Regions from separate parts of the Homo sapiens genome. Here region 2 is linked to region 1. The links come from fine-mapping of genetic effects on gene expression. Tissue or cell type: whole blood. Region 1 holds a variant in brackets; the other region holds the start of a gene. All regions are shown on one strand. Distances are from middle to middle.

What was found. PIP is the estimated chance that this variant, and not a neighbour inherited with it, causes the effect.
Region 2: it holds the start of NARF, and the variant in region 1 is fine-mapped to the expression of NARF in whole blood (TOPMed, PIP 0.97).

What each region holds. Positions count from the first base shown.
Region 1 is chr17:82,431,985-82,439,537 of GRCh38, forward strand. HEXD (hexosaminidase D) reads left to right here. Exons shown (of 13, transcript NM_001330542.2): 5 at 1,674-1,838; 6 at 3,705-3,888; 7 at 4,683-4,754; 8 at 5,184-5,379. Among named protein-coding and RNA genes, the nearest start is that of HEXD-IT1, 10 kb to the left of the region's middle. RefSeq lists an enhancer at 7,017-7,516. The variant G/C (reference allele first, on the strand shown) is at 3,960.
Region 2 is chr17:82,455,588-82,461,863 of GRCh38, forward strand. It overlaps NARF (nuclear prelamin A recognition factor), which reads left to right and starts at 3,154. Exons shown (of 11, transcript NM_012336.4): 1 at 3,154-3,243; 2 at 4,405-4,485. The coding sequence starts at 3,217. NARF-AS2 (NARF antisense RNA 2) reads right to left here and starts at 2,932. Exons shown (of 3, transcript NR_184099.1): 1 at 2,086-2,932; 2 at 1,851-1,961. RefSeq lists enhancers at 2,493-2,642, 3,076-3,908 and a silencer at 2,673-3,492.

The DNA.
Region 1 (7,553 bases):
TGTGTGCACTCACTGATGTCTGTGCTGAGATTTTTTGGTTCTTATTTTTACATTTTAGCCTGGCTTCCTAGGGTCATCCCTCTGTCTTCATAGTTGGTGGTCAGCCAAGGGTTTGGGCAGAGGTTGTGCTCCCACACCTTGAGCCCACAGACCTCCTCCCCTTGCCACGGGGCTGTGTGTGGGCGGTGGGGGGTGCATCCCTAGGTTCGCGCAGTTCCCACCTGGCCCTCACAGGTCCCTGCACGTGTGTGTGGCCCCCGTCAGCCAGGCCTGAGGAGAGTGTGCAGCACCATCTGGCTTTCTGTTTCCAGGGTCACCCATTAAATCTGCAGCCAGTCTTGGCTCTCCCCAGCAGGGACTGCACCCTCTGGCAAGCGGAAGACAGGGCCTCTTCTCCAGTTGCTGCTTCTACTGACAGCGCCCCCACAAGGGGTGGGTTTTTAACCCAGCCTCAAGTTAAGTCTGCCCCTTTGGCAGCAAAGCTGTGGTTTCCACAGTGAGGGGGAAGGGGGCAGTGAGTAGCCCTAGGCCGAGGCCACAGAGTCTCTGTTCTTAGGCAAAGTTAGAGTGGTCTTTCATAGATAAACATTTTTCTGTTTTTTTCTTTTCAGAGACAGGGTCTCACTCTGTCGCCCAGGCTGGAGTGCAGTGGTGTGATCATGGCTCACTACAGCCTCAACTTCCTAGGCTCCAGTGATCTTCCCGCTTCAGCCTCCCAAGTAGCTGGACCACAGGCAGGTGCCACCACACCTGGCCACTTTTTTTTCTTAAACCGATTTGGTTTTTAAAAAATTTATGGCTGGGTGCAGTGGCTCACGCCTGTAATCCCAGCACTTTGGGAGGCCAAGGCGGGCAGATCACAAGGTCAGGAGATCGAGACCATCCTGGCTAACACGGTGAAACCCCGTCTCTACTAAAACAAAATACAAAAATTAGCCGGGCGTGGTGGCGGGCGCCTGTAGTCCCAGCTACTCGGGAGGCTGAGGCAGGAGAATGGTGTGAACCTGGGAGGCAGAGCTTGTAGTGAGCCGAGATCATGCCACTGCACTCCAGACTGGGCGGCAGAGCAAGACTCCATCTCAAAAAAAAAAAGAAAAAAAAAAAAAAATATATATATATATATATATATATATATATATATATATTTTTTTTTTTTTTTTATATATATATTTTTAGTCTGGGCGTGGTGGTTCACGCCTGTAATCCCAGCACTTTGGGAGGCCAAGGAAGGCGAATCACTTGTGGTCAGGAGTTCAAGACCAGCCTGGCCAACATAGTGAAACGCCATCTCTACTAAAAATACAAAAATTAGCCAGGCGTGGTGGCACATGCCTGTAATCCCCAGCTACTGGGAAGGCTGAGGCGGGAGGATCACTTGAACCTGGGAGGCAGAGGTTGCAGTGAGCCGAGACTGTGCCACTGCACTCCAGCCTGGGCAACAAAGCGAGATTCCATGGGGTTTCACCAGTTGTCCAGGCTGGTCTCAAATTCCTGAGTTCAAACATTCTACCCACCTCAGCCCCCACAAGGTGCTGGGATTACAGGACTGAGACTCTCTGCCTGGCCTAATTTTTTTGTATTATCTGTAGATTTGAAACAGAAGCCCCAGGTGGGCAGAAGGAGATCAGTCCAGCTCCTCCGCCCCCAACGCGAACTTCTCTGTCTCTCCGCAGTTTGTGCTGAAGCACACGGCCTTCGCCCACCTGCGGGAGGTGGGCTCCTTCCCCTGCACCCTGAACCCCCACGAGGCAGAGTCCCTGGCGCTGGTGGGCGCCATGATTGACCAGGTCCTGGAGCTACACCCAGGCGCCCAGCGGCTGCACATCGGGTGTGATGAGGTGGGTACTGTCACCCCAGCTCTGTGCAGGACACTCTCCCCTATCATGGCTTGTCCTTTTAAATAGGAAAATCTTCCAGGCACTGAGGCCTAGAGACAGGCTTGTTGTTCCCCTCAGGGCACCCCATCCAACATCTTCTCCGAGTGGATGGGCGGCCTGGCACGGGACAGCCTGCGGAGCCCGAGGGAGGCACCCTCGTGTCAGACGCGTCCAACATCTTCTCCGGGTGGATGGGCGGCCTGGCACGGGACAGCCTGCAGAGCCCGAGGGAGGCACCCTCGTGTCAGACGAGACCACCCCGGGCGGCTGGGCTGGCGGAAGCCTGTGGGTGATGGGCAGGTTCACGCCCCAGGACCAGCAGTGAGCATAAGTCAGGGTGTAACTCGAGGGACACCCTTTTGTTGCTGAGAGGAAGTTCTGCATTTGGACCCTGAAGCACCCAATGGAAAAGGTGGTCCCCAGGGGGTGCCAGAGATGTGCCCCCTCCAACCCAGTGAGCCCCCACCCTTGCCCCTCCTGCCACTCACTGGACTCCAACTCAGTCAGGGCCTGGGCAGGATGTGGAACTGAAAGGGGCGGGGTTGGTGCCCACGGGGCTGGGAGGTTCTGCAGGGCTGTGGCTCACAGGGAACCCGAGCTGAACATTTTAGCCCCAGAAGTTTCCTTTTTTTGAAGGAAACCTGAGTATGTAAAATACACTTAAGCTTTACCATTCTAACCATTTTAAAATATAGGCTGGGTGTGGTGGCTCACGCCTGTAATCCCAGCACTTTGGGAGACCAAAGTGGGTGGATCACCTGAGGTCAGGTGTTTGAGACCAGTTTGGCCAATGTGGTGAAACCCCGTCTCTACTAAATATACAAAAATCAGCCGGGCGTGATGGCGGGCGCCTGTAATCCCAGCTACTCAGGAGGCTGAGGCACGAGAATCGCTTGAACCCAGGAGGTGAAGGTTGCAGTGAGCTGAGATCACGCCACTGCATACCAGCCTGGGCAACAGAGTGAGACTCCGGCTCTAAATAAATAAGTAAATAAATAAATAGGCCAGGCACGGTGGCTCACACTTGTGATCCCAGCACTTTGGGAGGCTGAGGCAGGTGGACCACCTGAGATCAGGAGTTCAAGATCAGCCTGGCCAACATGGTGAAACCCCGTCTCTACTAAAAATACAAAATTAGCCAGGTGTGGTGGTGGGCGCCTGTAATCCCAGCTACTCAGGAGACTGAGGCAGGAGAATCACTTGAACCCAGGAGGTGGAGGTTGCAGTGAGCCGAGATTGAGATTGTGCCACTGCACTCCAGCCTGGGCAACAGAGCAAGACCCTGTCTCCAAAATAAATAAATAAGTATAAACGTCAGCACCTCTTCCAGACATTCATGGTGTGGGCAATCACCCCAGGGCAAGCCCCGCACCTGCCCCCAGGCCCCGGCGACCACGGTCTGCTTCCTATCTCGGTGGATTTGCCCGTCTGGGCATTCCACGGGTACCGAGTCACACAGTGTATGACCTGTGCTCCTCCGGGCTGTCAGCTGCCAGAGCTTGGCTGTCTGCTGAAGCCGAGCCGTGTTCATGGTGGGGGATGCTGCCCTATGCTGGTCCATCATGGGGGATGGACCCCTGTGGTCTCTGCTTTGTTGGCTGTGAGAAGAGCTGCTGTGAACATTCACAGGAAACCTTGAGTAGAAGTTCAGGGCTCAGTGAGGAAGACAGGGACACGCTGGGGGTGGTAAGCAAAGGCTCCGAGCCCCTCCCTGGCCTCCTCCCCACAGGCAGCGGCCCCTCTCCGTCAGGGCACGGCGTGAACCCCGGACCCTCCCACCGGTGTGCACGGCTGCCAAGGCAACCCCGTCCTGCTCCTTCCTTGCAGGTCTATTACCTCGGAGAGGGGGAGGCCTCGCGCCGGTGGCTACAGCAAGAGCAGAACAGCACGGGGAAGTTGTGCCTGTCACACATGCGGGCGGTGGCCAGCGGCGTGAAGGCCCGGCGCCCCAGCGTGACACCCCTGGTGTGGGACGACATGCTCCGAGACCTGCCTGAGGACCAGCTCGCAGGTCGGCCAACAGGGCTGGGGGAGGGGGTGGGCCACTGAACTGCCCAAGACCTGCGGCTTCAAAGAAAGAAG[G/C]TGCTGTAGGAAGTGGGCCCCAGGGTGAGCCCCAGCCCCGCACAGACCCGCCACAACCACCTCCTGCATCCCCTTGACGCCAGGCCTGAGTCGTTTCCCTAGAAGCTGTGGAGGTTTGGGCAGGAGAGCACAGGCCTGCCTGGTGGCCCAGAGGGCTTGGGAGTGTCCAGCACTCGCAGCAGCCTCCTCCAAGGCCATCCCTGCTGGGACTGGGGGCCGAGGTTCCCGCTGGCTGCTCCTCCAGCCCCTGGGCCCTGCTCGCTCTGCCTGAGGCTTTGGGACGAGCTGCTGAGCGCCTTTCTGGGCCAAGAGGTGGTACTCAGACACCTGGCCTGGTTCCACACAGAGCCCCGAGGCTCAGTGAGCTCCATAGCAGAGCTGGGAGCCAGGGTGTCCTAGGGCCGTGCCGGCCTGGCAGCTTCCACCCATGCATGGCCACATAGATGACTTAGAGTGACCTCCATTCAGCCGCGTGCTCCAGCTGTGCCTGTGGCTCATGGCCTGGTAGAGCAGCAGTGGGAGCATGGTCGCTCCAGCGGGCGCTGGCTTGGAAAGGCACTGTGTGTGGTTGTGGCATTCATTGTCAAAACCCAGCACGGTGCCAAGTCTGTCTTAAAAAGGTATCTGTGCTCACACTTTCAAGCAAAACGAGAACAGGTGGGTCCGAGGGGCTGAGAGTGTGGTCCAGGTGTCTCACCAACCTCACGTCCGCTCTGTCTGCAGCGTCCGGGGTGCCGCAGCTGGTGGAGCCGGTGCTCTGGGACTACACGGCCGACCTGGATGTGCACGGCAAGGGTCAGTGCCAAGTTGTGGGGGGTGTGTTGTCCTGGCCATGTGCCTGGGAAGGCCATCCCTGGCCCTGTGACCCTGCAGCCGGAACTGCCCAGCCTGGAGCCTGCACGGGTAGAGGCCAGGGCACAGCCCCAGCAGACCCCAGCCCATGGTGCCTCGGGACGGCCACCGTGCACCGGTGCCTCACCTCCCTCCCTGTTCCACCAGTGTTTTCCTAGTGAGCAGGTGAACCAGGGGCCACGTACACTCTGGAGTCTCCCCGACTGGGACCCGGGCCGGCCGCATACACTCTGGAGTCTCCTACACTGAGACCCGGGCCTGGCTGTCTCAGGCGGCTCCCATGTTGGCTCTGGGTACAGCCCCGGGAGGCGTGTCCAGGGCCGTGTTGGCCGCCTCCCCTGGAGCCACTCACCTGTTTGCTTTCTCACCCAGTCCTCCTCATGCAGAAGTACCGGCGGTGCGGCTTTCCGCAGCTGTGGGCAGCCAGTGCCTTCAAGGGTGCCACGGGGCCCAGCCAGGCCGTGCCCCCTGTTGAGCACCACCTCAGGAACCACGTGCAGTGGCTGCAGGTGGCGGGCAGCGGGCCCACGGACTCACTGCAGGGCATCATCCTGACCGGCTGGCAGAGGTAAGTCCTGGCCAGTCTGTCCTCAGAGGGTCCAGGGCAGCTCTGGTGGCCACCACGTCGGCCTGTGCAGCGTCCGCCAAGGGCCTTCCCAGGTTGGTCAAAGGGGAAGCAGCCCGGGCCTCCAAGAGGAGCTGCAGAAACAGCCACGTGGGGTTGGGCCCTGCACGCCAGAGCGGCCGCTGAGGGACGCTGCTCCCGTGTTCAGGGTCACGAACACGTGGCCCCCAGCCCCCATGCTACCCGTGTGCGCCGCACCTGAGGCTGTGTGTGTGTGTGTGTGTGTGTCTTGCTTGTGGCACGAGGAGGGGTTTCGGTTCTTTCAGGATTTCACTCTGTTGCTAGAAATGCCGTCTCAATTCGGACCCCACGAGAAGGTTCTTGGGTCTCACACAGGAAAGAATTCAAGGCCAAGTGTGGTGAGGGAGGGTCACTGAAAGGTGCCCAGTGACAGAGGTGGAGCCCTCGGAAGGCCAGCATAGGCGTGCCCAGCTCTGTTTTCCGTTTTTCTCATATCAGGGTCTTGTCTACGTAAACACTAAGCTGTGCTACCTGTGGGTGGGCCAATAGTGTGACAGAATTTATTACTCTAGGGGCTGAGTGCGGTGGCTCATGCCTGTTATCCCAGCACTCTGGGAGGCTGAGACGGGTGGATCACCTGAGGTCCAGAGTTCGTGACCAGCCTGGCCAACGTGGTGAAACCCCATCTCTACTAAAGACACAAAAATTAGCCTGGCGTGGTGGCACGCGCCTATGATCCTAGCTACTCGGGAGGCTGAGGCAAGGAGAATCACTTGAACCCAGGAGGCGGAGGTTGCAGTGAGCCAAGATCACACCGCTGCACTCCAGCCTGGGCGACAGAGCAAAACTCTGTCTCAAAAAAAAAAAATGTATTACTCTATGATTTAAAGAAAACTGTCCTGGACATTTCAGTGTGTAGCCTATGGAAGCCTAACTCTGGTGACCTAGAAGGCACATGCTGTCGTGGGTGTGGGGATGCCAGGACTGTCGGCTGTTGTAGGAGTGGCCCCTGCAGGTATCTAAGCACTTCCTCAGCTGTAAAAATCCTGTGACTGTGGGTCCTGCCTGGCAAGAATGGGCCTTGTTAGTCCCATGAAGGAGCTGGGCCTCCGTGGCATCACCCTGGCGCTCCCAGGCCCCTGCTCCCCTGACGACACTGTGTGAAAAGCAGAGCTAAGATAAACCCCTGGTCGCCGGCCAAGTCCTGACCTTGGGTCTCGTCTCAAGTTAGAGGGTTGGGGGGCAGGTGGCGCAGGTGATGTGGGCTAGGCGAACGGCTGGAGGCCAGACCCACCAGGGGCCCCGTGCCCTCACCCACAAAGCTCAGATTGAGATGGAGTCAAGAATTTCATGGTGGGGACCGCAGAGCCTGGTGGGCCAGCCTGCTAGAGGGGCAGCTCACAGCCACCATGCATGTCCGGAGCTGGCAGCGGCTCTGCAGAAGCTTCTAGATAGTTCCCACTGTCCTGTTGGGATACAGCTCTGTCTGCATAAACCAGGATCGTCCATAGAGCGGGGCGAGGCTCCTCCTCCCCCAGAGCAGCGGCGCATCCTTCAGGCGAGCCTGGGGCTGTGGCGTCAGGCATTGCCCAGCCTTCGCCTGTGCTCACACCTGGGGCAGCGTCTGTCACCCACCTCACAGCTGAAGAAACTGAGGCACGGGCAGGTGGAGGCACCCTACCCAGCAGTGGGAAGCCCAGGCCAGGCCAAGGCCCCCCAGCCCTCGCTTGGGACAGATGCTGCCCCTGACCTGCTGCCTGCCACGCCTGATCTCTCGCCCTCCTCATGGGGCCTTGGGGAAAAGCTGCCACCCCCACCAGCCAGACAGGAGGCAGCCGAGGGAGAGGGTGGGGCAGGAGGGGCCCGGAGGCCCTAGGAGGGGGGCGTCAAGGGCAGCCCCCAGAAGCAGGAGCCCTTTTCTCAGAGGCCAGAGGTGCTGGGGGGAGGGACAACGACCGGCCACCCACCCAAGGTCCACCCAGAATTCCCATGGCTCCGGAGAGCATTGCAGCAAGGAATCCCCACGCTCTTCACTTGTCCGGTTTCTAGAACGGAGTTGACATGAGAGCCCTGCCGCACAGAACCTGTCTTGGAAACCCTGGGCCCCATGGGTTGAGGGGGTCGGGCTGCCCCCAGCGCTGATGTAGCCTAAGGCC
Region 2 (6,276 bases), 23 kb after region 1:
CACTGCAACCTCCACCTCCTAGGTTCAAGCGATTCTCCTACCTCAGCCTCCCAAGTAGCTGTGATTACAGGCACACACCACCATGCCTGGCTAATTTTTGTATTCTTAGTAGAGATGGGGTTTCAGCATGTTGGCCAGGCTGGTGTCAAACTCCTGACCTCAAGTGATCCGCCTGCCTCGGCCTCCCAAAGTGCTGGGATTACAGGCATGAGCCACCATGCCTGAGCTCAACTTTGAAGTGTCAACTTGAAACTGCCTTTGCAAAGATTAAGGCAGTGATAGAGGCTGGGTGCAGTGGCTCACACCTGTAATCCCAGCACTTTGGGAGGCTGAGATGGATCACTTGGGCCCAGGAATTCAAGAACAGCCTGGGCAACATGGGGAGACCCTGTATCTACAAAAAATTTAAAACTTAGCCATGCACAGTGGTGTGAGCCTGTAGTCCCAGCTACCCCGCGGGGCTGAGGTGGAAGGATTACTTGATCCAAGGAGGTTGAGGCTGCAGTGAGCTGTGATCACGCCACTGCACTCCAGCCTGGGTGACAGAGTGAGACCCTGTCTCAAAAAAAAAAGACAGAGAAATTTCACACAGTTAATTCCGTCTTCCTTTGGACATCCAAGCTGTCCAGTTGTTCCTGGGCATAAGCCAAGCTAATTTTAGGAGCTTTGGGAGGAATTTACAGTTTAACCTTGAAACAAGGATGATAATAGTCCCTTCCTAAAACTATCACCTCCCACTTCTGGGGCTGAAATTGCCTTTGTAAAGCTAATGAAAGGCCACAAGGTTAGGATTGTGGGAGTGGCCTGAACTCTGCTAAAATGCAGGCCTAGTTTCTACAGTCCCTCACTGCTCAGGACTCATGTGGCCAGAGGTCACAAAATTTGCAACTTCCCGAATTGCACCTATAGATAATATCAGTATTGCAGGACCTAAGAATGGCTTTTTGAGATGTTTTTCAGAGTGAACCCACCCCAACCTGCTACTCAGGACTCAATTGGTTTCTGTGGCCCCACCCAGAGGCAGACTCAGTGCTTGAGGACCGTTTTCCACACACCCTTTTGATTTCATTCCCAGTCAATCAGCAGCATCCATTCCCTAGCCCCCTGCCCACCAAATTGTCCATAAAAACCCTAACTGCGGCCAGGCGTGGTGGCTCATGCCTGTAATCCCAGCACTTTGGGAGGCCGAGGCAGGCGGATCACAAGGTCAGGAGTTCAAGACCAGCCTGGCCATTATGGTGAAACCCCATCTCTACTAAAAAATACAAAAATTAGCCAGGCGTGGTGGCGTGTGCCTGTCGTCCCAGCTACTTAGGAGGCTGAGGTAGGAGAATCGCTTGAACCTGGGAGGTGGAGGTTGTAGTGAGCCGAGATTGTGCCACTGCACTCCAACCTGGGTGACAGAGTGAGACTCCGTCTCAAAAACAAAAACAAAAAAACAAAAAACAAACTCCTAACTGCTGAGCCTTTGGAGAGACTGATTTGAGTAGTAACTGTCTCCTGTGTGGCCTGCCAGGTGTCAATTAAACTCTTTTCCCGGCCTGCTGCAATCTTGATGAATTGACTTTTTGTCTGTGCAGTGGGCAGGAAGAACCCGATGGGCAATGGCAAGCTGAAGAATGATGAGATTCATAAATCTGGAAAGGAGAGCTTTACTTCTCATAAAGGGTTTCAGCCTGCAGGGTGGCCATTCTGACAGACAGGGAAGCACTGCCTCTGGCCAGAAGCCAGAAACAGACACTTCCAGGGAGGGGCAAAGGGAACAGGAATCTATGAGGTGCAGTGTGTAAATATACATATTTATCAAGCTACAGGAGAAGTCATGAATATTTTTGAAGAGAGAAACATACACAAACACAATGAAGCTTCAGGCCCCTTCACGAGGGTCATGTCATCTCACCAGAACCACTCCATGGTCAGTGTCTCTTATCAGTAAGGAATACTGGTCAATTGGGCCGAAACTGCAAATGAGAGAGTTGTTATCAGCGGTGGAGTCTTTCGAAAGCGCTGGTTTCCGTTAAGCTCTTAGCCAAGAAAACCTAATGGTAGTTAGCCAAGGGTTGGCCTTAATAACAGGTGTCTCACCTCCCATCTGTCATGGCTGAGAACTGCCTTCAAGGCAACCCTGGGATCTCCTTAGCCAGTAGGGGGTTCGTGTAGTCAGTTGGGGGTCTTTGGATTTCATTTTCATTTCTCAGAGGACAGGAAGGAAGGCTCTAACATGGGGAATCCTGAGAACTGCTGCTGTCTGTTAAATACGCCTACAAGTTATTTTTCTTATGTCACACTCTCCCAGACATGTTCTTACTTCTCATTTCTGATTTCTGTAATACACACACACTGATTTCATAAAACGTTTATGAGTCCAACACTTCCATTATAGCCCTGTATCAATGTTTTGCTTAGCTGAAATCAATTTCTTGGAGGAGTAAGTGTTATCTTTACTTTGTAAGCTGTAAGGGCCCAAATCAATGTACTTGGTAAAACTATCCATAGTGAACACACGCAAATGTCAAATGGCCATCATTTAGCATCTGCCCTCGGGCTTCCGGGTCCATCACGTGGTTACTGACAGGCAGGCCGCGCATGCGCGCTGCTACTCCGCCGAGCCTACGTGACACGACGTCAAGTGGCAATGGCGGCGGACGAGGGCTGTGCCCCCGGCCCGCCCCGTTAGGAGCCGCGAGTAAGGCGAGTGTCCAACGCCGAGCTGGCTGACAGAGCCCGGCCGCGGCCTCCGCGGGCCCAGGGGCCTCCAGGCCCCGTGACCACCGGACCGAGCACCCTGGAACGGCCCCAGCTTGGCCTCGGGACAGTCCGCGCGCTCACCGACTCCCTGGTGAACGCCGCTTGGCCGCCGCCGCCGCCGCAGGACCCACGAGAAGCGGAAACCGGCGCAAGGACCCGGTCCCCCCGGCGCCGTACGTGGAGTGAGCCTGCGGTCCGCCCCGCGCGCTCCGATTGGCTCTGGGGCCTGGCCCGCCCCTTCCCGACACTGTCATTGGCCTAGGCAAAGCCGTAAGGGTGGGGAATCCTATTGGCCCAGGGGTGCGGCTTGTCCTCTCCCGGTGCTCTCATTGGCCGAGCGCGGCCGTTGGGGGTGAGGCCGCGTCGGGGGAGGACAACAAAGGGCCGCGGGCGGCGGGCAGTGGTGTCCCAGTCTCCCGGTGCTTCCCTGAGGCTGAGGCGCCCGGCCTCCCGCCCGCCGCGCTCCAGATGAAGTGTGAGCACTGCACGCGCAAGGTGAGCGCCGCGGGCCGGGGAGGCGCGCGCCTGGTGCTTGTCCTGTGGGGCTCTGGGCGGCCGAGGTTGGCGGTCCGGGCCCGCCGCTCGCTCGCTTCAGGGCTCTTCAAGGCGCCCCCGGCCTCGGCACCCTGGGCCCGCTCGGCGTGGAGGCGGCCGGCGCGGGGTCCGCTGCGCTCTGCAGGGCGGGTTCGGTCTTCGCGGTTCTCCCTGAACTTGTCCATCTTTCCCACGCCCGCGAAGCGCGGAAACGCACGGAGACCGAGCCTCTCGTGCCGCGCACCACAGTCCGAGTAAACAGCGGTCGTGGCGGGAATGATCAGAAGCGTTTCGAGAGGGTTTTAGGCGTTTTCGAACCTGCCCCTCTGAGGGTCACCGAGCAGCCGGTGCAGGGGCGGAAGCGGGTGACGGCTGCTGACCGGCGCCTTCCGCGGTTGTCTCCAGGCCATGGCAACAACCGCGCAGCGCACGCAGGGGGGTTTTGTAGCTGTTATTGCCGGAATGGGCTCCTGTGGATGCTGCTCTGTGGCTGGCACTTCTGCGCGTGACGCCGTGGCAGGAGGCTTCCTAACATTCCATGGGTCGTTCATCCCCGGTGGTGGCTGCGTCCTATTCTAAGTACACCTGTGTCCAGGGGAATTCGCCTGTGGGGTGAAGGCTACAGTTGCTTCTGCTTTTTTATTATTGTAAACAATAGAGATGTGTGTGTGTCCTTCAGTACCTGTTTCACTAGAAGGGTTAGAAGGATAGAAGGCCAGGCACGGTGGCTCAAGCCTGTTATCCCAGCACCTTGGGAGGGGAGGCCGAGGCGGGTGGATCACCTGAGGTCAGCAGTTCAAGACCATCGTGGCCAACATGGCGAAACCCAGTCTCTACTAAAAATATAAAATTAGCTGGGTGTGGTGGCGCACACCTGTAATCCCAGCTACTCAGAAGGCCGAGGCAGGAGAATCGCTTGAACCCGGGAGGTGGAGGCTGCAGTGAGCCGAGATTGCGCCCCTGCACTCCAGCCTGGGTGAGAGCGAGACTCCGTCTAAAAAAATAAATAAATAAACTAAAAGAAAGGATAGAAATACATGAGCTTCATTGGTCAGAATGTGCACATTTTCTTAAGGGAGACGAAGTAAAAGTTCATTGATAATGTTCCTTTGCTTTTTTAAGGAATGTAGTAAGAAAACAAAAACTGATGACCAAGAGAATGTGTCAGCCGATGCACCGAGTCCAGCCCAGGAAAATGGAGAGGCAAGTAGATTTTTCAGTTTTGTATCAGCCCAGAGTAAACTACTGCTGCTGTTTTTCTCTTTGGGGGCTCACAGCACCGTGCACATCACTGCTTTAAAGAAGACTGAAGTACGCGGGCATGGTGGCTCACGCCTGGAATCCCAGCACTTTGGGAGGCCGAGGTGGACGGATCACTTGAGGTCAGGAGTTTGAGACCAGCCTGGCCAACATGGTGAAACCTTATCTCTGCTAAAAATACAAAAATTATCCAGGTATGGTGGTGTACGCCTGTAATCCCAGCTACTCAGGAGGCTGAGGCAGGAGAATTGCTTGACCCTGGAAGACAGAGGTTGCAGTGAGCTGAGATTGTACCACTGTACTTCAGCCTGGGCAACAGAGTGAGACTCTGTCCCAAAAAAAAGACTGAAATAGGCCAGGCGTGGTGGCTCATGCCTGTAATCCCAGAACTTTGGGAGGCCGAGGCAGGCGGATCATGAGATCAGGAGATTGAGACTATCCTGGCTAACACAGTGAAACCTCATCTCTACTAAAAATGCAAAAAATTAGCCGGGCGTGGTGGGGGGCGCCTGTAGTCCCAGCTACTCGGGAGGCTGAGCCAGGAGAAAGGCGTGAACCTGGGAGGCGGAACTTGCAGTGAGGCAAGATCGCGCCACTGCACTCCAGCCTGGGCAACAGAGTAAGACTCCGTCTCCGAGACTGAAATAAACTTGAAGGGGCTAATAAAGACATGTGTGAGACAGTCCATCAGTGGCACAAGGCCTGTCTTCTCAGAACACACTACACCAAAACACACTGCATTGGGAACAAAGAAAACGTGGTGTAATACTGGATTTCTTCTTTTAATTTTTTTTTTCCCCTTTTGAGACAGGGTCTCACTGTCACCCAGGCTGGAGTGCAGTGGCTCACTGTATGGCTCACCGCAGCCTTGACCTCTGAGGCTCAAGTGATTCTCCTGCCTCAGCCTCCCTAGTAGCTGGGACTACAGGTATGCACCACCATGCTCAGCTAATTTATTTTTATTTTTATTTTTTGGTAGAAATGGAGTTCCACTATGTTGCCCAGATTGGTCTTGACCTCCTGGGCTCAAGTGATCCTCCTGCCTCAGCCTCCCAAAGTGCTGGGATTACAGGCGTGAGCCACTGCACCTGGCCTCTCTTCTAATTCAGTTCTTGTTTTTAAATTCTCCTTAGCTAGTAGCTATGGTCTCTGTTTATTGGATACATAACCTGAGCCTGGCTCTCAAGAATGTGATTTTACAGCCAGGCATGGTGGCTCACACCTGTAATCCCAACACTTTGGGAGGCCGAGGTGGGTGGATTACCTGAGGTCAGGAGTTCAAGATCAGCCTGACCAACATAGATAAACCCCATCTCTACTAAAAATACAAAATTAGCTGGGCGTGGTGGTGCATGCCTGTAATCCCAGCTACTCAGGAGCCTGAGGCAGGAGAATTGCTTGAACCCGGGAGGCGGAGGTTGAGGTGAGCCGAGATCACGCCACTGCACTCCAGCTGGGGCGACAGAGTGAGACTCCGTCTCAAAAAAAAGAATGTCATTTTACATGCAGTCTCATTTCACGCCCAGAAGGAACATTACATGTAAGCCTGGCCATTATCCCTGTTTTACTGAGTGAAGGGTGTTGGGAGAGGTTAAGGTCAGTCTACCCTTAGAAAGTACTAGTACCAGTTTATAAATGGAGAGTTGGCAATATGGCAGAAGCATATTTTTTCCTTAAGTTTAGTAGTCCTGACATGTTTAATCTGACAGGTGTTCTCCCGGTTGCCCTGTGTGC